3 separate regions of the Homo sapiens genome follow, and all the other regions are linked to region 3. The links come from fine-mapping of genetic effects on gene expression. A gene starts in region 3. Each other region holds a variant in brackets. All regions are shown on one strand. Distances are between the middles of the regions.

Region 1 (8,404 bases), 120 kb after region 3:
CCATCCCCCTGTTTCACAAACTATAGCTACAGCTTTGATTAGACGAGAGGCTATTTCAATAACTTTCTCCTGATAAGAAGACCACCGACCGTGGACGGATTCTGGCCAGTTTACAAAGGCTGCATACGTGAGTGCGTTTGTGTCCTGAAACGACCTTATAAAGCCTTATTATAATATATTTAAATGTTAAGTCTCCACCCCAAGGTGAACATTGGTCAGATGTAATATGTACATTTATTCAGTATGTGTGCATTAGGAGGACCACGAATATTCATGGCTCCTTCTGTAATCCATTGAATATGTTTAGTCAACCCATTCAGCATAAAGTTCCTATCCCAATCCCTCCTCTTTTGAAGTACCTGCCTTTCTGGCGTCAGCCAGAGGCCAGGCTTCCCAGCTTGTCAGAATTTGCCTGTCAACTTTGCAACTGTAACCCTCTATGAGAAATATAACTTTCCTTTCAAAATTTATAAATTGTGTAATTTTTAAGTTAACACCCCTCTAGAAAATGATTCAATTTTCCTTGTCTTTCTTTTCCTTTGTCTTCTGAAGTCAGAAATCCAGAATCTGTTTGTTCTTAGGTCTCAGCCCTTTTATTCTCTCCTATGCTTTCACCAAGGATATTCTATTGTAGCAGACAGTTATGTGAGCTTGCAAAATTAACCATTCATAGACTTTGGCCCCAGAGTTTTTGCTGACTTGAGACCATCAGCACTCAGGATATCAATTTTTTTTTTAAATCCTAGGTATAGAGATGTGAGTTAATCATATTCCTTATTTCATGGCACATTGTAATTATTGAGCTATGCAGACTCTTCTGTGGAAGAGTTGGTTAACTTTCATCCCCATTCTTTATTCCCAGTCCTCTCCTCCTCCCTCAACAGATAAATTATTCTAATGAGTTTACTGTATATGGCTTAACTTGTACAGGTGTTTGTAAAGTATCTATTGTTACTTTTATGTTCATAGAGTTTTACTTTTATGTAAGTGCTATTTTTTTTAGATCTCATTCTTTTTTTTACCTTTTTTTTTCATTTAGTATCCATGTTGCAGTATGTAAGTCTAGTCCATTGCTTCTAATTGTGCTGTTGTTTTGCATCTACTCAGTATACCTCTGCACTTCCCTGGTGATGAACACTCAAATTGCTTCTAATTAATTCCTCAGCACTAAAAATAATGCTGCGACGAACATCCTCTTACATATGTCCATTATGGATCTCTGGGAGACATTTTTGGGGGTCATAAACACAGAAGTAGAATTTCTGGGTGGTAGGCTATATGTATACTTGATATTGACTAGATACTGTCAGATAACTCTCCAGAACAGCTTTACTTTCTTACCAGGAGTACATGAGATTTCCTAAACCCACATCCCAGCCAACACCTAGCAATATCTAGTTTCCTAACTTTTTCCAGCTCATTTCACTGTTATTTTGATTTTGATTTCCCTTATCCATGAGTTTGAACATCTTTATGTATATTTGTAAGCCATTTTGATTACCCTATTCTATACATTGCCTGTTCAAATACTTTGTCCATTTTTCTGTTAATTTTCTTTTTTACTTTAAGAAGTTCATTGTATGTTCTAGACGTTAGTACATTGTTATTTTTAGACACTGCAAATAATTTCAATGTGTCTTCTCTCTGTTAACTTTGTTCGTGGTGTCTTTCACTGAACAGAAATCTTTAATTATGATGTAATAAAAGTCATCACTAGTTTTGTATTATGTGTGCCTGTAAAGTTCTATCTACAATGTTCTTTCCTGTGCTGAGATTACTAAGGTATTTTCCCATATTTTCTTCTCTTTACTTTGTTGTTTTAAGCTTCACATTCAGATATTTATTTCATTTGCAGTCTATCTTTGTATGTGACTTTAGGTAAATATCCAATTTTGTTTTTATCTATGGCATGAGCCAGGTTTGCAACTCCTTCTATTAATCTGCCCTTTTCCCATTGATATATGGTACCCACTTTACTATATATTAAGTTCCCATATAAACATACTTAATTTCTAAGCTCCTTATCATGTTTCACTGATCTTTTTGTCATTGCAATAATATCACATTGTTATTATTACTTGACTGTGTAGTATGTCTTAATACTTGGAAGGGCAAGTACCCATTCTTTGCCTTTTTCTTGAAATGTTGACTTACCTGTTCGTGGATCTTTATTCTTCCATAAAAACTTGAGGTTATTGAACTTCTCAAGAAATTCAACACAAATATTTTGAAGTATTTGTGATTGTGTTGAATGTATAGATTAATATGAACTGACATGTTTATAATATTAAGTCATCTCCCCCAAGATATGGAATGTCACTCCATTTATTCAGATAATCTTCTATGTCATTTATTAGATTTAAAAATTTTCTCCATGGAAGTATTATATGTTGTCATTATTTTCTAGTTATTTAACATTTTTTGTTGCTGTTCTGAATGATATCTTATTTTTAAATACATTTTGTAATTGGTTATTGTTGGAGAGAAAAGTGCTTTTAATTTTTGTAACTTGATTGTTTCTGATAAACTTGCTGAATTATCTTATTAGTTGTAATACTTTGTTGATTAGGTGCTTTTTTCTAGCTAGAGAGTCATATTATCTTACCTGCAAATAATGTCATTTGTTTTCTTTTTTTTTTTCTACCAATGTATTTATTTCTCTTTCTTTCCTTATAGCATAGGGCAGGGCACCCCACTATGGCAAACACTAATAATGATATTGCTCCTGATTTTGTTTCTGAAGGGAATGCCTCTAAGATTTCTTCATTAATTATAAGGTATACTGTATTTTTTGATATATTAATAAATTTCCATTTATTTCTAGTATGAGTTTTTATCTTTGATATGCATTGAGATTTGTCAAATGTATTTCCTGCATTGAGATGAACATGTTATTTTAATTTTTTTAGTATATTAATGTGACAAATTTTAAAGATAGGTTATGTGATTTTTAATAGTTTTTGCATCCTGTTATCAATCTGAATTAATTATATATGATTATATATGTAATTATATATAATATGTATATAATTATTAAGCATGTATTTTGTAGACAACATGTTGAATCTTTTTTGTAGTTTTTATCAACTATAAATGTCTCTGTTATTTCATTAGTTTAGGCTATTTACATTTTTGAAATTATGTTATTTTAATTATGTTCATTTAACTAACATAGTATTTCTGCCATCCTGTTTCATACTTTGCCTTTTCTATAGGTTGTTTAAATTTTTTTTAAAGGCAATGATTGGCTGATTTTTTCTATTAACAGATAAACTCCAATTAAATAAATAAACAACCCATATTTGACTATATATTGTTTATTAAAAACACACCTAAAACAAATGACAAAGTAAAGATTAAAAGAGAAGGATGTAAAAGATATGGCAGGCAAACACTAATGCAGTTAACAGCAGATTAAAATAGAATTAAAGGTAAAGTGTTTTGGTAATTAAAGGCATAATATATTTTGCAACCTTTTGCAAAGGGTTAAAGAGCAGTAAAAAGTAACAAAAATAACTACAGATAAACTAATGATTTAAAAATAGAATATTATTGTCAGTTATCCCTTCAAAAAGCTGAAAAAATTGAATATTATAAACAACTAAGTACCAGTAATGTTGAAATCAACACAAAATGGATAAGTTAGTAAGAAAATGTCAATTGCCAAGGAATCTATATCTGACTTTCTATTTTCAACCATGAAAGACTGACTGTTTCAAACTCCAAAGTCAGGAGGCCCACCCACTAGTTTTAGCTAGATCTACCAAACCTTTAAGAAATCCACATTTTGCATGAACTATTCCAGTGCACAGAAAAGAATGAAAATTTCCCAACCAATTTTGTCAGGTACAAAAATTAGATAGTGAAAGCCCAAGAACATAAAACTATAGATTAATTTCACTTATGAACACAGAATGCAAATATCCTAATAAAATATTAGCATATCAATTCCAGGAGTGTCCCAAATTTATTTCCCAAATAGAGTTTACCAAAAGATTCCAAGATCTGTTTAACTTTTGAAAATCAATTAATATCATTTAAAAATAAGTGAAAAAAACATATAATCCTTTCAGTAGATTGAACAAGACATTTGATAAAATTTTAAACTCATTTGTAGTAGAACTTTTCAGCAAATTAGGAATAGAAGGGAACTTTCTTAATCTGATATTGGCTATCTAACAGAAATCTATAGCAAACATTATACTCTACTTCAAATACTGAAACATTAGAACAATGTCATTGAAGTCAGAAAGAAGACAAGGATGCCTACTATGAGTACTAATATTTAGATAGTCCTAATCAATAAGAAATGAGGTAGCAATTCCACTTCTGGGTAGTTATCCAAAACAATTGAAAGCAGGGATTTGGACAGATACTTTTTGACCCACGTTCATAGCAGTGTTATCGACAATAGCCAAAAGGTGGAAACAGCCTAAATGTCCGTTTTGTTAATGGATAAACAAAATGTGGTATTTACATACAATGAAATATTATCCAACCTTAAAAAGGAATGGCATTCCAATACATGCTACAACACAGTTGGGTCTTGAAGAAATTATGCCAAGCAAAAGAAGCCAGACACAAAAGGACAAATGTTGTATGACTTCACTTAGATAAGGTACCTAGAGTAGTCAAATTCATTGAAACAGAAAAGAAAATGATGGCTGCTGATGGAAAGGGAGAATGGAGGATTATTGTTGAATGGATACAGAGTTTCAGCTTGGGAAGATGTAAAATTTCTGGAAATGGAAGGTTTTGACTGTTACACAACAATATGTATGTACTAATGCTACTTAATGGTACACCAA[G/A]AATGATTAAAATGATAAATTTTATATTATGTGTATCTTACCGCAATAAATAATTTAGAAATGTGGAATCAATGTTGAAAGAAAGATAATTTGTTCATCAGTTTCAGACAAAATGAACCCCCCAAAATTAATTGACAAACATTCAAAGATAATAAGAGTGCAGCAAGATAGTCAAATACACAATCAGAATGAATACGTTCACAGCTTCCTATACAATAGAAATCACCAATTCAAAAATATGATAGAAAAATTCCATTTGTATTAACAACAAAAATAAACCCCCAAATAAACCTAATGAAAAAGTGAAATACTTTTATAGGAAAAAAACTTACAAAAGGATATAAAAGAAAATCTGAATAAATTGTGAAATACAGCATGTTAAGATGACCAGTTGTCTGAGTCAGTTTGGAAAATGTATGGGGGTCTTTAAAAAAAAATGGAATTACAATATGAGCCATCAACTTCACTTCTGAGTGTATAGCCAAAGGAATTAAAATTGGTGTTGAAGAGATATCTGCATTCTCACTTAAACATACCACTTAAAAATGTACACTAAATGTTAGGTGTTTTCTGTGTGTACACACATGTCTATAAAAATATCTTTAAGTTTTCTGGAAAGAATCAAGCCCTATTCCTCAGTGATTATTCCTGGGTACAGAAAAGAAGTTATTGGATTTGGGATGAAGGTCAGAGGAGGCTGTAGCATATATCTACAAATATTCTAATTTTTCAAAGGAAGAATATATTTCTGTATCATTTCATAATTAAAATCAATTTTTAAAACGTTTTTTATTTGCGGCATGTTTTTGTTGAATGAATGCATGGTATGAACTAATAATGATGTGTTCAGTAATTTTCATGCATATAATTAATAGGAGAATAGTTTTGATGACAATTTTATTTATTTACAGTAATATATTGGCTTATTTTACTAGCAGGCTTGCATGTCTGTTTGTTTGTATTTAGAGACTGGGTCTCACTCTGTTGCCCAAGCTGGAGAACAGTGGCACCATCATAGCTCACTGCAGCCTTCAACTTCTGGGCTCAAGTGCTTCTCCCACCTCAGCCTCCCAAGTAGCTGGGACAACAGGTACAGTCCACCAAACCCAGCTAATTTTTTTATTTTTTTGTGTGTGTATAGACAGGTTCTCACTTCATTGCCCAGACTGGTCTCAAACTCCTGCCCTCAAGGAATCCTTCTGCCATGGCCTCTGAGCCACCATACCTGGTGCATGTTTATGTAACGTGTCTATATTAAAAAATAAGAAAAAACATTGATAACACTTAAAAAGATGGGCTCTCATATTAAGTCCTCCTTTAACTTCCGCTACACCTACACTAACCCATTTCCCTTTGGTTCTATTTCCAAAAGACAACATGAGGTGGTAGGAAAAGCCCTGGTCTGGGATATGGTATGCAGTGTTGTTCTGATTAACAGTTGACATCTATTGGTTGTGTGACACTGGAATTCACTTTTTTCAGATGAAATATAAAGGGAATATCATGGGGTTCCTAACCTGGCAATATCTATGAGTGTACTTTGAAAGGTCTGTAAAGTCCCTGAAATTATAAGGAAACATTTGTAAGTGGGTCTCCGCATTTTTTTGAGGGGAAGGGCATTTAGGAGAGGGATGCTCAAATAGTTCCGGAACAAGAAAACAGCAAAAGGTTAAGAGCCATTGACCTAGATGATCTTCAGTGACCTTTCAGCTGTGAACTTCTGTTAAAAGTAATCCTTGAGGCTTGAGGCTCTTTTTTTGCCCTGTCCTGTTTCTCTTTCCATTTATCAAACTCCTAAACACAAAACAAAAAACAGTTATCAAGTTTCATCAACTATAAAATATATATTTGATTACCAAAGTTAATATGATTATTAAATGGAATAATTCATGTAAAGCCCTTTACCACTGTCTGGCACAGAGTAAACAAACAACAGATAATTTTTTAAAAAAAGAGCTGAGGTGGAATTTATTGGTGTTACAACAGCAAGTTTAAATCCCTAAGCCAGTAGGCTAGGCCTGTGATTTTTTTAGCTCATTGGAGGAAGGTGATAAACTTTGAAATAGTCAGTGATTAAGGCTGGAAAATTCTTTGAGTTCTGAGAAAACCAGTAGAAACTCAGCTTTGTCCAAAACCTGGAAAATGATAGGCATTCAATCAATGTTAGTTTCTTCCAAAATTTGGCCTCATATTCCTCACTTTTTATCTTTTTTTCTCACCTAGAGGGTCCAAGGCCTAGAATGCTTATTAAAGACCTTGCAAAAAATAATAGAGTTACACTTTTTAAAGGTCTTACTAGAATTTTCTATAGCCATGGTTCTCAATATGTAGTCTTGGGGTGCATGTGAAGTAAAAACTACTTTCATCATAATACTAAGATATTATTTGTCTTTTTAATTTTCATTCTCTTACAAGTATCCAGTAGAGTTTTCTAGATGTGTGATGTCACAACAGCTGGAAGGCAGAACTAGGTACTATAATCCAGTTGTCTTCTATTAAGCTAGACATCAATGAGATTTTCAAAAGTGTAAAACAATGCCACTCTTCTCATTAATTGTTTTCTAAAAATAGTTACATTTTAATAAAAATATGGTATGTTAATATGTAATGGACTTGTTAAATGAATAAATACTTTAAAAACTTCTCAGTTTTAGTTTCTAATATGGAAAATATTGGTAGACATAATCCCCATAAACAAAAGCTCTTCATGTTTCTCAGTAATTTTTAAGAGCAAAAAGGGGACTTGAGGCAGAAATCCTCAAGAATCACTTCTGCTGATTCTACTGAGAATTACTTCTCTGTAGAAATAATTGTTCATTAAATGGATAAAAAATACGGAGAAAACTATGGTTTACCTTCATCCTGGACATTGTCATCATGCTCAATCTCTTGTTTTTATGAATAACTTTTAACTTTTTTCTCTAAGTGAAATGGACTTTTTTGCAATCATATTTTTTAGCTAGAAGGCTGACAAGAGCCAAATTCATAATAGAAAACTGATCCTATATGCCAGAAATGCTGACCAAAGCTTGGAGATCTGCCACACAAAATAATTCCATTTGGGAGTTTTTCATAAAAATGCTTGGATCTCCACCCCAGTTAGATCTTCTTTTTAACTGTACTCTCTGATCGTGTTAACACTTTGCCTCCTTCCAGCAGAATAACCTAAGCTTAAGTCTCGCTCTATTGTATGACTTTGACGACACATTTCTTCTTGATCTGACCTCTCTTTGTTTGCCTGAATGACCTTGTTTTCCCAGTTCCCTGGAGCAGGAATTATTCTTTGTCTATCTGGATCATGTTCTTTTGCTCCGAAGTCTCTCTGTCTATACTTTGTGTGAGTGTAAACATATGCGTTCGTTTATATTTTATTTTAGTGACTTTTTAAATTTGAAAGAATGAATGCTCCTTAATTATAAAATAGTCAAGCAATACAGAAAATTGTAATAGAAGACAGCAACAAATCATCACGGATTCCATCATATAGAAATAATCAGTGTTAACTTCTGGAAAACATTATTTCAGATTTCTTTGTATGCAGCTGGATGGAGAGTTAGACAAAATTTATTTAACACAATGGAATCATACCATTTATG
Region 2 (8,404 bases), 35 kb before region 3:
GCCAGAGGGTGTGTGAGTGTCTGTAGACACCTGGTGGCAGTTTGGAGGAATTACGTTCAGTATCATCAGGGAGCAAATCCCTGTGCATGCTGTTCAGGAGTGTCCCAAGTGCCCAAAAGAGCTTCCTGGGTTTGGAAGCTGAACTAGTCAATCTGATATCAGTTTGAGGAGCTCATCCTGGGAAAAGAGTCCTGTTTTTAAAGTCATGTTTGTCCAGAAATTCGTCCTTGTTACTGGCCCAAATGTTTACATTTGATTTAATTTTACCATTCCCACGGCCTCTGCAATCAATTTCCTTTCTTGGTTCTATAGATTTTATTCTAGAGGCAAAGTCCTGGGGGATTTAGGAGTAACACAGTGTCTTACACACAATAGAAGTTTTATGGTGCTTACCAAGTGTCTTTCAAGTTCTTACTATTATCCCCATCTTGTAGATGGAAAAATTAGGGCACAGAGAGGTTAAACAACCTACCCAAGGCCACACAGCTAGTCAGGGACATCAGCAGGATTTGCACCCAGACAATTTAACTCCATAATCTCTACTTTTAACTTTCTTAACAACTGTTGACGGATGAACAGACGGGTGTAATTTGAGAGGCCCTGAAAAAGGTCTTACTCCAAAATATACTTTCCACTGAGGTAGTATAGTTATATAATGTCTACCATAAAGCACTGCCCTTTTTCTGTTTCTTATAGTGCTTTTTAAAGTATAAATAGCCTATGAAGGGTTATATTAGCCCTTTAGTGTGAATTTATTCATTAGATGTTTTATATTGTCTTGTTTAATAAGTGCTAGAAAGGGCTAGAAGGAATTACTGTGTTCTGCAAAGGGATCTCAGTAAACGGAACTGTTTTATTTCTTTGCCCTTGTTCTGAACTGTACTGAAAAATAGAAAGAAAATGTGGTGCTCAAAATGTCATCTTTTTTATTGATAGTGATTAAGTAAGACATTAGTAGCGCTAGGTCTGCTAGCTGGGGCTTGCTCATACTAGAACTGAGAATTAGGCTAACTTACCCACCTAATCATGACAGGCCTGGGCATCCTTGCCTAAGAGTAAGTCCCTATTATGCCATAGGGATCTCTGCAGTTCCCAAGTAGAAGCAGAGTAGAGCTAAGCCAATTATTCTTACAAAATTTACCAACCAGTTAAGTCCTTCTACCATCTCAGGGGCAAGGAGAAGAAAGGAGTGAAAAGAGGCCAGGAGTGGGGAAAAGGCGCTCACCTCTAGTAGAGACCTTAGACATCACCTAATCAAGCCTTCTCATCATACAGATACAATGGAATTCCAGAGAAGGGAAGGGACTTTGATAAACTAAGGTTGCGAGCTGTGAAGGGGTTGAGTCACGACACTGGATATGCTGATTTGGCTGCCAAGCTCCTTCAACATTCCACCACAATGCCCTTTTCCAGGAAGAGTGAGCAGTGGGAGTGCTTTAGAACCTGGCATCCAAGGGACCTGGTGGGAAGGGGGAGTGAAGAAGTAAAGCTACAGCAATATGCCCAGTGAATAGGTCCTAGGGTGAGCCCTCAGCACTTTGGATACTGGAGTCAAGCCCTCTTTCTTCTGCTGTCCTCCTTGAAGCTCCACTCAGTGTCAGAGAGGGAAGACTATTTAAGATCACCCACCATATTAGTAGGATTTCTCAGAAACAGAACCAACAGCATGTGTATTTATAGAAAGAGATTTATTACAAGGAATTGGCTGATGTGAATATGGAAGCTGGAGAGTCTAAAATCTGCAGTGTAGGACAGCAGGCTAGAAACTTGGGAGAGCTGATTATACACAATCCTAAGGCAGTCTGCTGGAGAATTTTCTCTTGCTCAGGGATGCTAGTCTTTTTGTTCTATTCAGGCCTTGAACTGATTGGATGAGGCCCACCCCATTAGGGAGGGCAATCTGCTTTACCCAAAGTTTACTGATTTAAATGTTAATCCCATCTAAAAATATCCTCTGAAATGTGAAAGGGAAGTTCACTATGCCAAAAGAAAAAAATTAAGCAGAAGGTAAGTCATGCAAGCAACGGCCTTTCCTTTTGTTCCTAGGCCCATAGCTACTGATAAAAGATTAAATATCTCCACTCTATGTTCACCCTACCTTGTGTAAAGCACCGATTTACTGAGCATGAGACGGAAACATAATTGACTATTCCCTTACCTTCTTCTCCTTTTATCTTGCAATATGTGGATTTAGTAATGTGACCCTACCCTCCCTATTTCTTCTCCACCCTGCTTTCACCCTTTAAATATTGAAGTCCTAAAAAATTATCATTGGGGAAAGCACAGACCTGTTTCTGGAGTGGTCCTTAACCTTGGCAAAATAAACTTCTAAGGTGATTTGAGACCCGTCTCAGATAATTTTTGGTTTACAAAATTCACACATAAAATTAACTACCACACCCGTTTTTTCCCTTGATTGACTCTGTGAGACTGAGTTTTCTCCTTTAGTCATCTGAGTACCACCTTCAAGATTTTTGCAATATCTGTGTATATATAATAATAATATTCTTATTTATTTATTTAGAGACAGAGTCTCGCTCTGTTGCCCAGGCTAGAGTGCAGTGGCGCGATCTCGGCTCACTGCAACCTCTGCCTCCAAGGTTCAGGAGATTCTCCTGCCTCAGCCTCCTTAGTAGCTGGGATTACAGGTGCGTGCCACTATGCCCGGCTAATTTTTGTATTTTTGGTAGAGACGGGGTTTCACCATGTTGGCCAGGCTGGTCTTGAACTGCTGACCTCATGTGATCCACCCACCTCGGCCTCCCAAAGTGCTGGGATTAGAGGCATGAGCCACAATGCCCGGCCTAATATTTTTGAACCAATGTTAACTACTCACTTAAGAATTTAGCCTTACACTAATATTTGAGATAACCGGTTTGTTGGGCTGGTTTTAGTATTTTCTAACACAAATAAGAATAAATACTCAAACATTCTTAAAAAGTGCATGTAGCACTTAAGACTATCTTGGTACTCCATTTGGGAAACCATGTAGCCAAGGCTGTTGGGGCGAACCAAGGTGGTGGGAGTCCGACGGGCCAGCAGGGGGCGCACTTGCAGGTCACCTGAAGTCCTTATTTACGGGATAAGGTGGAGGCTGAGGAAAGTCTTTCAGAGGCCGGACGCTGGCACTGGACGGAGTAGGGAACCCTAGCCGTTATCCCACCAAAGGGTCCCAGCGCCTAGAGGGGCTGCGGAAAGCTCCTACAATACGAGGAGCCCTTGGAGCCCAGAGCGGGATCCTGCGAGCCGAGGCCCCGTTCTCTGTTAGGATCACGGGGACTGCCCCAGGCAGCTGCTGGGCCCGGTCGCGGACCTCGGCCAGAACATCCTCCCAGAACACAGAGGAATCTGACATCAGTGGCCTCCCTTGGTAGAGGTGGGGAGCCGAGGGGCGGCAGTGTGGAAGGGCCATCGGCCTAGGTCTTTCGTATCCCCTCCGGCCTCTCGGGGCTGTGCGTTCGGAAACAGCGAAAGGAACGGCCTCAGGAATCTGGCCTCAGCCGGAGCACTGGTGAACACAGGCTCCCGT[C/T]GCGCCAAGGGAAGTAGGAAAAGCTGCTTCCGGGCGGAGGGGCTGCACTTCCGGGGCCCGCGTCCCCCGGCGGCTTCGCCGAGAAGGGGCTTTGGGAGCTTAAGGGCGCCGGCACGCGTTCCCCTGGCGCAGAGCTCGCTAGCCGGGGCGCGGGCTGCCTCCTTGTTCTGGTGTGATCCGAATGTAACGGAGCGGACTTTGGGATCCAGAACCCCGGACTGAGGTTGTGCTTGGCTTGAGGGGCGGGCTGGTAGGTCAGCCCCCTTGGGGCGTCGTTGGTCCTCTCCAGGCGTGTCACATTCTGCCCGCACATGGTGCCTTGGTACTCCCCAAAAGTCATGCCTTGATTTTTCTTACTAATAATAGTTTACACTGTTTTACCGCTTCACTGCTTCACGTAAGTAAAGTAATTATTTCAAAAGGAAATGTTGGTCATTTATAAAATGGTGGTAAAGATGGTACAGCGGATTAATGTGAGGATTAAATGAGATGATACATGAAAGTGCTTAAAACAGTACAGGGTACTTACCGTTATTATTGTTAAGTAGAAAGTGAGTTCTGGGAAACAGTGGGTGTATGGTCCTTCACAGCAGGTTTTGGAAACGTCTGATTTCCAGCCTACCCTCCTTCCTCCTGTTGCCGTCTGTTGCCTGATTGTTCTCACTGGCTGAAAGGAGATAATCCCTGCCACTCCATTCATCACTGAAAATTCTTGTCAGTTTGGTTGCTTAGGTACCTACTAAGAGTTGCCAGCAGGTGGCCCCAGAGCACGCGGTTATGTTTGTCTTTTTGGGTCCCATGTTTAATTAGTAATTTAGTAGGGACGTATTGAATACTTATTCCACACTATGGTACACTGTACCAGGGGATATAGGGATGCCTGAGGGTGTGGGAGGCCGACCCTGGTCTCAGGGAGAATATAAATGATTTATTATTCTGGTCTTTCACAAGATTTTGGCCTTTTTAAAGATCGATTCATGTATTCATTCAACAAATATTTATTGGATGTTTACTCTGTTCCAGTTTCCACTCAGAGATGTGAAGTATATCAATGAATAGAATAGACAAAGATCTTTGCCTTCATAGAGATCACATTCTAGCACACAACAATAAAGATAATAAATTATGTAAAATGTTAGAAGTGTTATGAAAAAGAAAAAATGTAGACCAGTGTTTGTGTGTGTGGGTAGGGTTGGTGGGATGGGCAGGTTGCAGTATGAAATAGAGTGGTTAGTATTAAATAGGCTTCATTAGGAAGGCAAGATTGAGCAAAGATTCAAAAGATGTGAGGAAATTAGTCAGATCTGGCGGGAAGTGTGTTCTAGATATGAAAAAATTGGAGTTATTACATTTACTCCTTTAAAGATGAGGTAATTGAGGTTCAGATAAGTAAAGTAACTTGTTTAGGGTCTCATAAGAGGTTTCTAACAAAACTGGTCTGGTTTCATGTCCTCATTTCCAGTCGTGTTCATTCACCAGATCACATTACCACTTGGTGTTTTTAGGGTGATGGAGACTTCACAATACATAACTTGCTTAAATCATGACTAAGGTTATCTTGGCATACTTCCCATCATTGGGTAATACCAAATTCTCTGTGATCTTTCTTTTTTTACATAATCAGTAAATATTTATTTTGCTAACTGGTGTGGAGGATAGAAATGAGGCATAAAGCCTGTCTCCTGCCCGTAAGGGACAAATAATCTATACATAACCATTTTGGCCTTCATCTCTTTTTCATCTACTTTCCCCATTTCCCCCAAGACAAGCCCACTGATAATCTGTACCTACAGCTTAGAATTAGGTCAGGTCCTTAAACTTGGTCACCCATTCTTGGTTTGTAGGTTCCAGAATTTCACTGGATTCCTTTTGCTGACAGTTGTTGTGCCTCTGGTTATCCCCCAAGTCTCTACTCCCTTTATCCTGTGTTGAACTTGTCTATGAGACTGAGCTTATGCTATGCTTTTCACTCCTCAATTAGATATCCCATCTGGATCCTTAGTTCCCCTCTAGAACTGCCTCCTTGTCTCTTGTAGTCTCAGTTGTTGATCTTTCCACTTGAGTGGAGACTTTGCATTGCTCCTATTTGGGAGTTGTGCCCCTTGTTCGCTGTGCTTGCTCCCCTTGAGCTGCCTCTCTGAGCCTGAGTCAGTTCTCTTCACCTCTGGCCCAGGGAACTCTGGACATGTGCCACACCCCTTTCCCTTCATGCCTACACTTGCTGGGAGGATATTGTGGTGCCTTGTGTTAAAAGTCCTGGGTTATGGCATATGTGAAACAGCCGCGAAGGACAGAAGACTATTTTTACGTAATTAATTGCCTGGGAACTAGTTGTTTAAAGGAGAAGGGTGTTCGGTAAGCCTGAGTGGGTAAGAATGAGGAAGGTGGAACTTGAGCCTGGTCTTGAGGGATGGGTAGAATTAACAGGTGTAGGGGAGAGAACAGGGTTGGGGGTGAACTTGTTATGTTGTGAGCCAGTAAGGAGATTAGCCTAAGTGGAATGGAGAAGATGTGTTTGGGAGTGGTGGTGGGAAGAGGATAGATAGGCAGGGCTGGATTGGAGCAGAGCCTGGAGCATCAGCTTGAGAAGTTTGCATTACAACATCATAAATTATTTTTAAATATTTTATGGTTCTTGGGAAGCTGGCATGAAGGCACAATGACAATGTGTCATTAAGATCTGTATATCTACCTGCCTATCTTTGATCATCTCAAATTTGCTTTGTCCCTGAATGCCCCATATGAAAGAGGTTCCCTTGGTTATTTTTTCACAGCATTGTGTTCCTTACTTATTTACTTTTTCAGTTTTTTCTAGTGTGCCCTAGAATGAATGTTGCCAGGAGGCAAGGACTTGTTCTGCCTCCTTGTTGAATGCCCAGAATGTACAACAGTTTCAGATACACATTCAATGCTTTAAAAATATTTGTTGAATGAATGAATGCCCTGAGCTAAGTTTATTTCTTTAAACCTGATCTATTCTACCTTCTGAATTCTTGAATTCTGTTAGTGCTAACACCATCCATTTGGTCTGCTAAGTTGGATACTTGGAGTCAATTTTGATGAAGACATGAGTACAGGTCTTGACCATTCTTAAACTTTACATGAGGATTGTATTCCCACTGAAGCCTTGTTTTTTACTCCATTATGCCAAGTTAACACAATGTAACGTGTTGCATTTTCAATATGAAGACAGAAAACATCAAACATGAACAGTGAGGCTAAAGGAATGAGAAGTTATTGGGAGCCAGGGCCATGGGCAAATTGTAAACTGTGTGTATCTAAATGTAACCATCATATTATCTGTTCTGTCCTCTTCCAAGGGGAAGAATCATGTAATGGTTAAGAACATGGTCCCTGGAGTTAGGCTGCCTGGGCTCAAATTCTGGCTCAGCCACTTACTAGCAGTGTACCCTTGGGAAAGCTGCTTAACTTCTCTGTTTCTCAGTTTTCTCATCTATAATATATGGGTAAGAATAATACTTACAGAGTTATTGTGAGGATTAATATGTGGGAAGTTCTTAGAGCAGTGCTAGCATATAGTAAATGCTCATCAAATGTTATTATTAGCTATATTAGCTATTATTAGCTGTTAATATTTAGTGGGCCATTGAAACAACATAGGCTCTATTGCCATTTGGGCTGCTGATCTGAAACAGGTGGCCAGACTTCATTGAGGGATGACCTTTGCAAGGTGTGATTGAGGGTATGGGATTGAAGGAAATTTGGGATTTTTTGAGTGAGGACTGAGTTCCTGCAGGAGATATAGTCACCCCAAAGGGAGTTACCAGGTCCAGATGGAATTATTTCCAGTGGAATGTGCACACAAATTCTTTGACACAAGTAAGGAAGTATTACTACTTAGTTATCTATATGTGAATCTGCACAGAAAACTGAAAGAACTCTGTTGCTACCTTGCTTTTGCTTTTTTGAGGGAGAAGACAATCAAGTGTGAAGCCAGGCAAACCTTTGAACATTGTTATTAAGGCAGAAAAAGCCTTCTTCCTCTACTTTCCCATCCTCTCCTTCCTCACTGTCTGTTTCTCCCTCTCTGTAAACACAATGGGACATTTCATTTCAAGAGTGTGTCTTGTTGAGGTGGGGCAGAAGGGTTTGGTGGTTTTATCAGACTGTTTAACCATAAAACGTTTTTCATCCCTGTGTTCCTGTGCCCCACCATTTCAGGCACTTGGTATTTTTACTGCCTCACCCCCATCAACAGAGAAAAGGTGGATTTGATGTCATTTATTATATACTTTAAAGTAATTTTATTTTGCTGAATTTGTAAATACATGCAAATGAAATATTTTAGAGCTACAAAAACAACCATGGCCAGATATGTATGAACGAGGTCTTTCCCAGTCCCCCTCTGGGTTTTGCACAGATTTATTCTGAGGGTCCCTTAGTCCAAACTGGGGGATCCGCAGACAAAGAGATCAATATTTTTCTCTTCTAAATTCAAAAGGCAAGGTGCAGGTATGAGACATTAAAGTTTGAAAGAAGACGCTACTGGGAACATTTTTTTCCTTCTACTCCACCCCTATCCAGAATAGAAAAAAGACCATCTAAACAAGAGTGGAGAGGAGTTTGGAGAAAAAGTAGAGTAGGTTGTAGTGTATGGGCTGGGCCTGTGCTCTTCCCTTGCCCCAGACTGAGTGTGAGGAGTGGTGAATAAGAACACCACAAACCTGTCTGTACGTATGGGAATCCCAGAGCTGAGAGGACACGTGTCTCCTTTTCTTAGTGTCACCAAGATGACTGCAAACCCTGTAGAGAGGCCCTTCAGTGCTGTGGAGTGGAAAACTTGGTTTCACATGTTTGGCCTTGCTTGTTGGAGAAATTCAGACCCCTGAGTTTCTCTTAGCCCTAAAATGGCAT
Region 3 (8,404 bases):
GGGCCACTGCTGGAAGATCGACCAAAGCCAGTCCCATGTTGGCCGGAGCTGGGAGACTGCCCTGACCCAGACCCACGCTGGCCGTGGCCTGGAGACTGGCCAGATCCAGAGCTGTGTTGGCCGCGGCCTGAAGAGTGACGGGAGGCAGACTCATGCTGACCATAGCTGGAAGACTGACGTGAGCTGGAGCCATGTTGGCCAGAGCTTGATGCCTGCCCTGACGTAGATCCATGTTGTCCCTGGCTAGAGGAGTGACCTGAGCCAGAACCATGCTTACTATAGCCAGAGGACTGTCCTGAGCCAGACTCATGTTGCCCAAAGCCAGAAGTCTGGCCTGAGCCAGACTCATAATGGCCACGGCTGTAAGAGTAACTTGAGCCAGACCCGTGTTGGCCGTGGCTGGAGGAGTGCCCCGAACCGGACCCATGTCGGACGTGGCTAGGAGACTGGCGAGATCCAGACCCTTGTCGGCCGTGGCCCAAAGACTGACGGGAACCAGACCCATGCTGACCATAGCTGGAAGACGAACCTGAGCTAGATCTGTGTCGTTCACCCCTAGATGACTGTCCTGACCTAGAGCCGTGTTGTCCGTAGCCAGAGGAGTGACCTGAGCCAGATCCATGCTGACTGTAACCAGAGGACTGCCCTGAGCTAGACTTGTGTTGACTAAAGCCAGAAGACTGGCCTGAGCCAGACCCATGTGTGTCATTGCTGGAAGACTGTCCGGAGCCAGAGCCGTGTTGGCCATAGTTGGGAGACTGCCCTGACCCAGACCCACATTGGCCGCGGCCTGAAGACTGATGGGAGTCGGAGTTTTGCTCACCATAGCTGGAAGACTGACCTGAGTAGGAGTTATGTTGGCCAGAAAAGTCTCTTTGAAAACTCAGTCTTCTGGATATGGATTCAGTCCCAGGTTTAAGACTTCCTCTGACGTTTCTGGAATAGGAATCATTCTCTCCTGCACTCCAACTTGAATGACTAAAAGAGGATTCTTGCCGTTTGTTCTCCTCTTTTTCAGTTTCTTCTTGTTCCTCTTGGTGCTGGTGAGTGTCATCTCTCAGCTTTGACCCTGAAACTTGGCAGTAATCTTTGCCAATGATTTTATTACGAGCCTGAACCAGCTTGAATATCATCAGAAGATACTCAGTAAAATCCACTTTCTTGTTATGGTCTCGATCCAGACTTTGCAAGATGATATCCACAGTATCTGGATCGTTTGGATTCTGTATAAGAGAAAGGTACAAAGAGTAGCTCTGTTAGTATGGACAATACATCTGGCTAACGAACTGAAGGAAAGATGTGAAAATGTAAATGTTTGGGTTATTTATATGGAACTCATTCACACAGTCCTTTAGGCTGCATTTCTGTATCCTGAGCAGAAAGAGAAAAAGGAATATGGAATGAATAATGTGGTGGGAAACAGCTAGAATAGGATGCAACTGGAAGATGAAAGGAAACAAGAGGGCTGATTATTTTTGGTAAAGAATGGGTCAAATATGAATGATTAGCTAATTTATAAGTAATATGTTTTTATACCTACATTAATTATATCAACTTTATTTATCCAATTAAATTAACTAGCTACTTAATTTACTCACTGAACAAAGATTTATTATTTTACTAGTTGCCTACCATTATGTCATATGAGAGTATAAAGAAGTGAACAAGTTTGCTTCCTGAAAAAAAATGGAATTTAAAGTTTAGTTGGCCAGATATACAAACTTAAAATTATAATTTATTGTGGTAAGGTTTCTACAAGAGTACATCAGAGAGGAAACATTGGGGGTCCTAGAAAGGTTAATGAGAGGAAATGATGCCTTTTGAAGGATGGATTAGGATTAGCCAAATGAAGAAGTAGGAAGAGAAAGAGAAGGGGAAAAGATTGTTCTAGGCAGAGGGAATTATATGAACAAAGGGCTAGAGGTGAGAGAAGTTATGGAGCATTCAAGGAACTGAAGGAAATTCAGGATTGCTAGATTTAGAGTTTGAAGAGTCAAGAAATGTGGATAGAGAGACAAATAGGGACTAGATTATGACTTTTAAGTTATGTTAAGGAACTTTGTACTTCATTTTAAGAGCAATTGGGAACTATTGAAGGATTTTTAGCTGAGGAGTGAAATGATTATATTTGCATCCAATGCTGAGAGTAGAAGTAGTAGGTGGCCTGAACCAGAGGACTAATAATAGTGATGAAGAGAAATGGGTTGTTTTGAGAGATTATTGATGAGTTAGATGGAGGTTAGAAGGTAGTGGTGTCTGCTGAGAGAGAGACAATAAAAAATGACACCAGGTTTTTGCTTTGGGCAAAAAGATGAAGGAAAAAGGTTAGTGGGGAAGATTATGAGATTCATAGCTGACACACTGAATATCTGACATCTGATATCTGAATATCATATCTGAAATCCACAGAAATCCAAATTTAAGGAATTGAAACTCAGGAGTCTGATATAAGGTCCCAAATATCTAAGCTATCAAATCTAGACCTGACAGTTTTAAGGTGGTGGACACATTCTTTTGTGATTCAGGAGTAAATGCCAATTTCCTGAACTCAGAAATCTACTTCACAGTTTTTCTGAGGACTGTCTGGGTTTGTAGGAATTAGTCACTTAGATAGGACATTATTTAACCTGTGGGTTTTGTTTGTTGTTTAGTAAGGTCACTTCCGTTAGTTATGCTATGGAAACCATCACGGATCTGCTTTTGACCTTATCTCAAACTTTTACCAAACCCTGTTCTCTCTCACCAAGTAAGGACAATCCTCTAGGATGTTTGACATATGTGACAAGAAGGTGGAAAGGGATAAAGAAGAAAATTCCTGCATAACTCCATCCTGGCGTGGAGTTCTTACCTTCAGAATTTGATGAAACTCATTTTCCAGAAGTTCTTTCAGCTCTGCCTTGTTCAACGTATCATACTCCCCATGCTGGGTGGCATATTGGTAGAAAACATCGATGACAGTGATGACGCCTTGTAGGAGTTTAGGCATTTTTTTTTTTGCAAGTTTGAGTAACCTAAAGGGAGGAAAAAGAGAGACCAACCCCTTACTATTCTTATTTCTTGTTTAAACACATAAATAGTTCTAATTATTTATAATAATTGTTCAGAATTAGTCAGTCATGATTAAATTCATTCTGTTGTAATCAAGAACCAATTCAGAGTTGAATGACTTGTTCAAGCCATGTAGCAAGAGAGTGATGAAATTAGGAATATAATCCATAGGTCTTATTTCCATTCCTGAATGAATGTAGGAAAAATGACTTTCTGTTTTTGGCTTCCTGCCATTACCAGGGATAATATTAGCTTTGTTCTGGAGCTGTAGAAGTCCTGAGTGTTCCACTTCATCTGCTTCCTCTTTCTAGGTTCGAAGCATACTGTGGGCATAGGTCCATCATCTACATGACATGCCTTACTCAACCTAAGGAGCATCAATGGCTGAACTGAACTCTCAAGACTTCTAGGTCAGAGAAAATAGACAATGTGAGCAAAGCCAACAAGCCTAGGTGATATGAAGCTAAGGGTAACTGCTATTAGATCCAGCTTCTGTTCTCATTCTCCAAGCAGGAAGTGACCCTCAGACCTTATTACACAATAGAGAGGAAAAGCTCAGTTGTAAAGAAGGCAACCTGCCTGTGGATAATTAGAACCCCATGATATCCATGTTATAAGGGAAGCGACCTCAAAGAAAGGAGATAATATACATAGTCCTAGTCTTTGTTTCATTTTTCTTTTCAGTAAATTTAAACTTATACCAAAGTTCCCCAGAGTATACTAAAAAGAAGCCTTGTATCTAGTGCCTCTTTGCCTTAGAGCACATCCTGGACTTTCATAATTTATAGCCCTAAGTACCCTTGAGCGGAGTTGAACTGCTCACTTACCTAGCTCACCAGAGGAACAAGTAGGGTAGAGACAGAAACAGCTTTCAGGGTGCTGCGAGTTGGGCAGAGTGGCCTTTTTATAGAGGGAATAATGGTCCCTCTTAGGGAGGAGTTGCTAATTTTGAGATGTCCTAATTTACTCCTAAACAAGCCCATCTCCACCTCTATCTCCACCTCCCAGGTGTTTACCTTCTTCCTGACTTCCTTACAGGTTCACCTAAGATTGCATTAGCAGTTCCCAAATCTGGGCTACTCTCAGCCCCACCTGCCAAAGGGTCAGGACACTGCAGAAAGGCCTGTTTTTGTATTCATCAAACTATCTAGCACAATATATTGACAACAAATTGTGTGGATTTTAATAGAAGTTGAATGGAGTGTGTGCAGGGACATCATGGCCCAAATGTCAAAAAATCATGGAAATTGATGATTAAAAGGACTGTAAAGATCATCTAGTCAAACTCTCCCATTCTAAGCTAAATGTTCTTAAATGGTATTCCAGCCAAAGTGTCATCTTTGGTATTGTTATTACCTTTTGAATTGGATAATGGCTCCAGGCCATCCTTTAACTCATTAAGTACCTCAATTTACCAGACCCCTTATTGGCCATTCATCACCATAGCTTTCATTTCAAACACCATATAACCTTAGGAAGAAATGCGTGCTTGTTAGCATGGTATCCATGGTTCCTCATGATCTGGGCTGTGGCTTTTTTCCAGCTCCATTTCTCCCCTCCATATTTCTCTTTGTACTCCAACAGTAATTAACTAGTAATATTTCAAACTTCCTCAATATACCATGGGATATGTTATTTCATATTTTTTCTTAGAATGTCTTTCCTCATTGTCTGCCTAGTGAACTAATTATTCTTCAAAATCCAATTTAGGCTTCCCATAGAAAATCTTTCCTGAATTACTCAAGAGGGAGTTGTAATTGTGTACCTTATTCATATTTATTGTTGTATCAATCATACTATATTGTAATCTTTAAAAATTGTTTTACTATACAATTATTGTTTAATATAAAAATTAGAAAATATTGATAAGCAAATAAGATAAAATCAAAATACCTTTAAAGCCACTAGCCAAAAATAACTACTGTTAGTTATTTGTTGTATATCCTTGCCTTTCACAAACACACACATTCACACACAGACACACACATTTGTCTATGGGCTTATTTCATTTCTAGGCTATGAGCTCCTTGAGAATAAGGAATGGACATTATTTATCCTTATGTCATTTGGAGACCTAGTATACTGCTTGTCACATAACGGTCTCCAATAAATGTCAGTTTGAATTCATTTGAAAGAGAAGCAAGGATCAAGACTATAGTCCTCTGCATTGGCCAACTTCCATCTTTTCACAGGAGGACTAGGGTCTGCCCTCTCTCTTGCCATCTTTGCCTCAGAGGACATGATTTTACCTGAATATAAACGGAATCTTAGCATTGAGAATCAATGAGTGGCTTTCTGCTTTTTTCTGAGGCCCTCGCTCTGCATTTCTTCCATTGTGAACATATAACACAAATTTCACTGAAGGTGTGTGAAGTTACATGGACTTAAAACTTGTGCAATATGGTCATCAGGATTTGAGAAGGTGTGGTAGCAACTGTTGGCAAGTGATAAATTACATGATTCCAAATTCAACTATTGTTAGGCTATGTGTTTTCTTTTAAGAATTGCCCAGAGGGCTGCAGAGTCAGTATCCATTCTGTAGCCGTGTTTCCTCTGGACATCTGATTGGGCCAGGTTTTCATGCTTCATCAGAACAATGACTTTTTAAAGGTGTGGCTGAGACTGTGGGAGTAAAGGGGGGTGGAATTTGCTGAGTGAAGACTGATTTCCTGCAGGAACCAGCTGTTGTCACGAAGGGAGGAGAGGGTTGTGAGAGAAGACTATTCCAGGTGAACGTGCTCTTGGGGCTAGTGTTCTCCTGAAATAGGGGCCAGCAAACTTTTTTTTTTGTAAAGGGCCAGATGGTACAAAATATTATCTCTGCAGGACAGATAGTTTTTGTTGCAACTACTCAACTCTGCTATTGTAGCATAAAAGCAGCCATAGATGATATGTAAACAAATGAGCATGGCTATGTTTCAGTAAAACTTATTTATCAATACTGATCTTTGAATGTCATATAATTTCACATATCATATATTTTTTCAACCGCTTACAAATGTAGAAAACCTTTTTATCCTGTAGGCTACACAAAAATGGATGACAAGCTAGCTATGAACTGCAGGCTGTAGTTTACCACTCTTTGCTCCTCTTCTGTATTTGCTTTTCAGGAAGATTCTCTGGGAGAGGAGGATCTGAGAGAAAAGAAGGGCTGAAAAGTGTGGGACATCAGAACCACTAACTCTTGCATGAGAGAACAAGAGTGAAGGTGAATTTGTAAATATCAGCATGTGTGGGGTGGTGGGGAAAGGGAACAGAACAAGGGACCTTTGGCTGCTCGTAAAAGGGAGATAAATTTTGATTTGATGTAAGGGAGAAATATTTAATATTTGCATTGACTGAAAATGCAGTGAGCTCTTTGTGAAGTAACTGAATTTATTGTCAAGTATCATATGAATAGTTTTTTACTATTAAAGAAAAAATTAATTCTTTCATTACGTTGTTTTCTGGATATGCTCACCAACTAGAATTTTGTTGGGCTTTTTTTCCTCGTTTGTATCATGAAAATAAGAAGCATATTACATATGCGTCTTGGTCTCTTCTCTCCCCATTGAGAATTACTTATTAAGAGTAGGACTAGATTATCACAAAAGTCACTTTCAAAACAGTTTCTTGTTTTTTTTAGAGTGTGTGCTCCATAGTAACAGAGTTGGACATGAAGATTCCTCCATCATGGGTTTGGTTAGTGGTTTTTCCACTTGGAGATGATAGGTTTCAGGAGAAAAGCTTTTCTATGGTATGTGCCATGTTCTAGGTTTTTGAGTGCCTTTCTCTGTGTGTTGGCAGAAGAATGAAAATTACATTCCTTTTTATGACAAGCACAGTGCTTTGTGTGTGGGTGTACATTGTTTCATTAATTCTTACAACAACCCTGTTATCTAGATATTATATTTCCATTTTGCAGATGAGAAAACTGAGGCTCAGATGAAATCTGTAACTTGTTTCAAGTCACTTAGCTGTTAAGTGGAGAAGACAGAATTCAAATTCAAATCTGCTTTTTCCTAGGAATAGTCAGCAAGTAGGGAAATATTCATGTCTTGGTAAAGGAAGGGTTTTGGAAACAGTTCTTCAGGAATGGAGTGTTTCACCTAGGAAAAACAAACAAACAAAACTAGCAAGGATAAACAGTGAAGTTCCAGTACCATCTGTGTGCACTCATTTTTTTCTGCCTGTCTGGAAGGCAGAGTAATGTGCCTATTGCACCATCTGCTGGGTCATAGGGAAATTCTAAAGCAGATCTTTTCTTCATTGCCTTTTCTGCCCTTTTTCCTTACAGAAATTATTTCATGGAATTTCTATAGTTCTTTGTAGCCTAGTCTCTATAAATGAGGAGACTATGTAAAAAATAGGGGTATGTATATAAGAGAAGGTTGATGGTCATGATTTTGGGTAAATGGAATCAAAAGAAGTTAGCTATAATATGAAACTGGTTAAATAGTGCTTCCTTCTATATCCTCTTTTGAGTCCTTTTTACTGTTATCTCAAAAAATAAAAAATGGATTCGATATAATTTTACAGCTTAGTATATATTCCCTGGGGATGAGACAGGCATGGTGACATATCTTTCAGCTTCAGACCCACACCCTGGAATATATTCTGCTTCAGTACTGGTCTGCCTATTGAGTTGTTTCTTTCTCCCTTAATATCCTCCATTTTCTCTTCCGAGAACTCCAAAATGCTTCAAATGCTGGGAATCCAGAGCTCATTCATACATGTATCCTTTTATTTATTCCATCAGTATCTTTCTCTAATATATATATATATATATATATATATATATATATATATATGAGAAAAAAATATATATATAGTTTTTTTTTTTGGGTCTCACTGTTGCCCAGGCTAAAGTGCAGTGGTGCAACCATGGCTCACTGCAGCTTCCAACTCCAGGGCCCAAGTGATCCTCCCACTTTAGCTTCCCGAGTAGCTGAGATTATAGGTGTATGCCACTGCATCTGTCTAATTTTTATATTTTTTTGTAGAGATGAGGTCTCACTGTGTTACTTAGGCTGTGTGTTCTTATCTTGATGTTTGATGCTCTTACTGGCTTGGTATTCATAGTCTCTATCCCTTAGTTCCTACTACCTGAAACATTCAGCATGCAGACCTGGTCCATTAAAGTGGACAAATGGAGAAGAGTGACTGGAAGCGATTCTCACAAACACTTCAAGTGTTAGAAATGGTACCAAAAAAAAAAAAAAAAAAGCTGAGATATAAGGACCTTGATTGTTGGAAATCAAATCCAGAACATTTGCCTTTCGATGTGCATGCGTGCGTGCGTGCGTGCATGTGTGTGTGGCAGGGGATAGTGGTGGGATAGCAGATAGAGAAGGGAGAGTGAGGCATTGTAGTATGA

Which allele goes with the higher level. Alleles are on the strand shown, and positions count from the first base shown. SD is a standard deviation of normalised expression in the study named. Not every link is listed here.
For the expression in prefrontal cortex of the gene that starts at base 3,926 in region 3, C is the low allele of the variant in region 2 and T is the other (moderate effect, 0.61 SD a copy in CommonMind).

What was found.
Region 1: its variant is fine-mapped to the expression of HRNR in esophagus mucosa (GTEx, PIP above 0.99).
Region 2: its variant is fine-mapped to the expression of HRNR in prefrontal cortex (CommonMind, PIP 0.95).

Annotation. Positions count from the first base shown.
Region 1 is chr1:152,335,313-152,343,716 of GRCh38, forward strand. CCDST (cervical cancer associated DHX9 suppressive transcript) reads left to right here. Exons shown (of 8, transcript NR_186765.1): 5 at 27-127; 6 at 2,677-2,777; 7 at 5,775-5,898. Among named protein-coding and RNA genes, the nearest start is that of FLG, 14 kb to the left of the region's middle. The variant G/A (reference allele first, on the strand shown) is at 4,809.
Region 2 is chr1:152,185,730-152,194,133 of GRCh38, forward strand. CCDST (cervical cancer associated DHX9 suppressive transcript) reads left to right here and starts at 3,574. Exons shown (of 8, transcript NR_186765.1): 1 at 3,574-3,752. The variant C/T (reference allele first, on the strand shown) is at 3,530.
Region 3 is chr1:152,220,268-152,228,671 of GRCh38, forward strand. It overlaps HRNR (hornerin), which reads right to left and starts at 3,926. Exons shown (of 3, transcript NM_001009931.3): 1 at 3,876-3,926; 2 at 2,849-3,011; 3 at 1-1,223. The coding sequence starts at 2,986. The region is part of intron 1 of CCDST (cervical cancer associated DHX9 suppressive transcript); the gene reads left to right.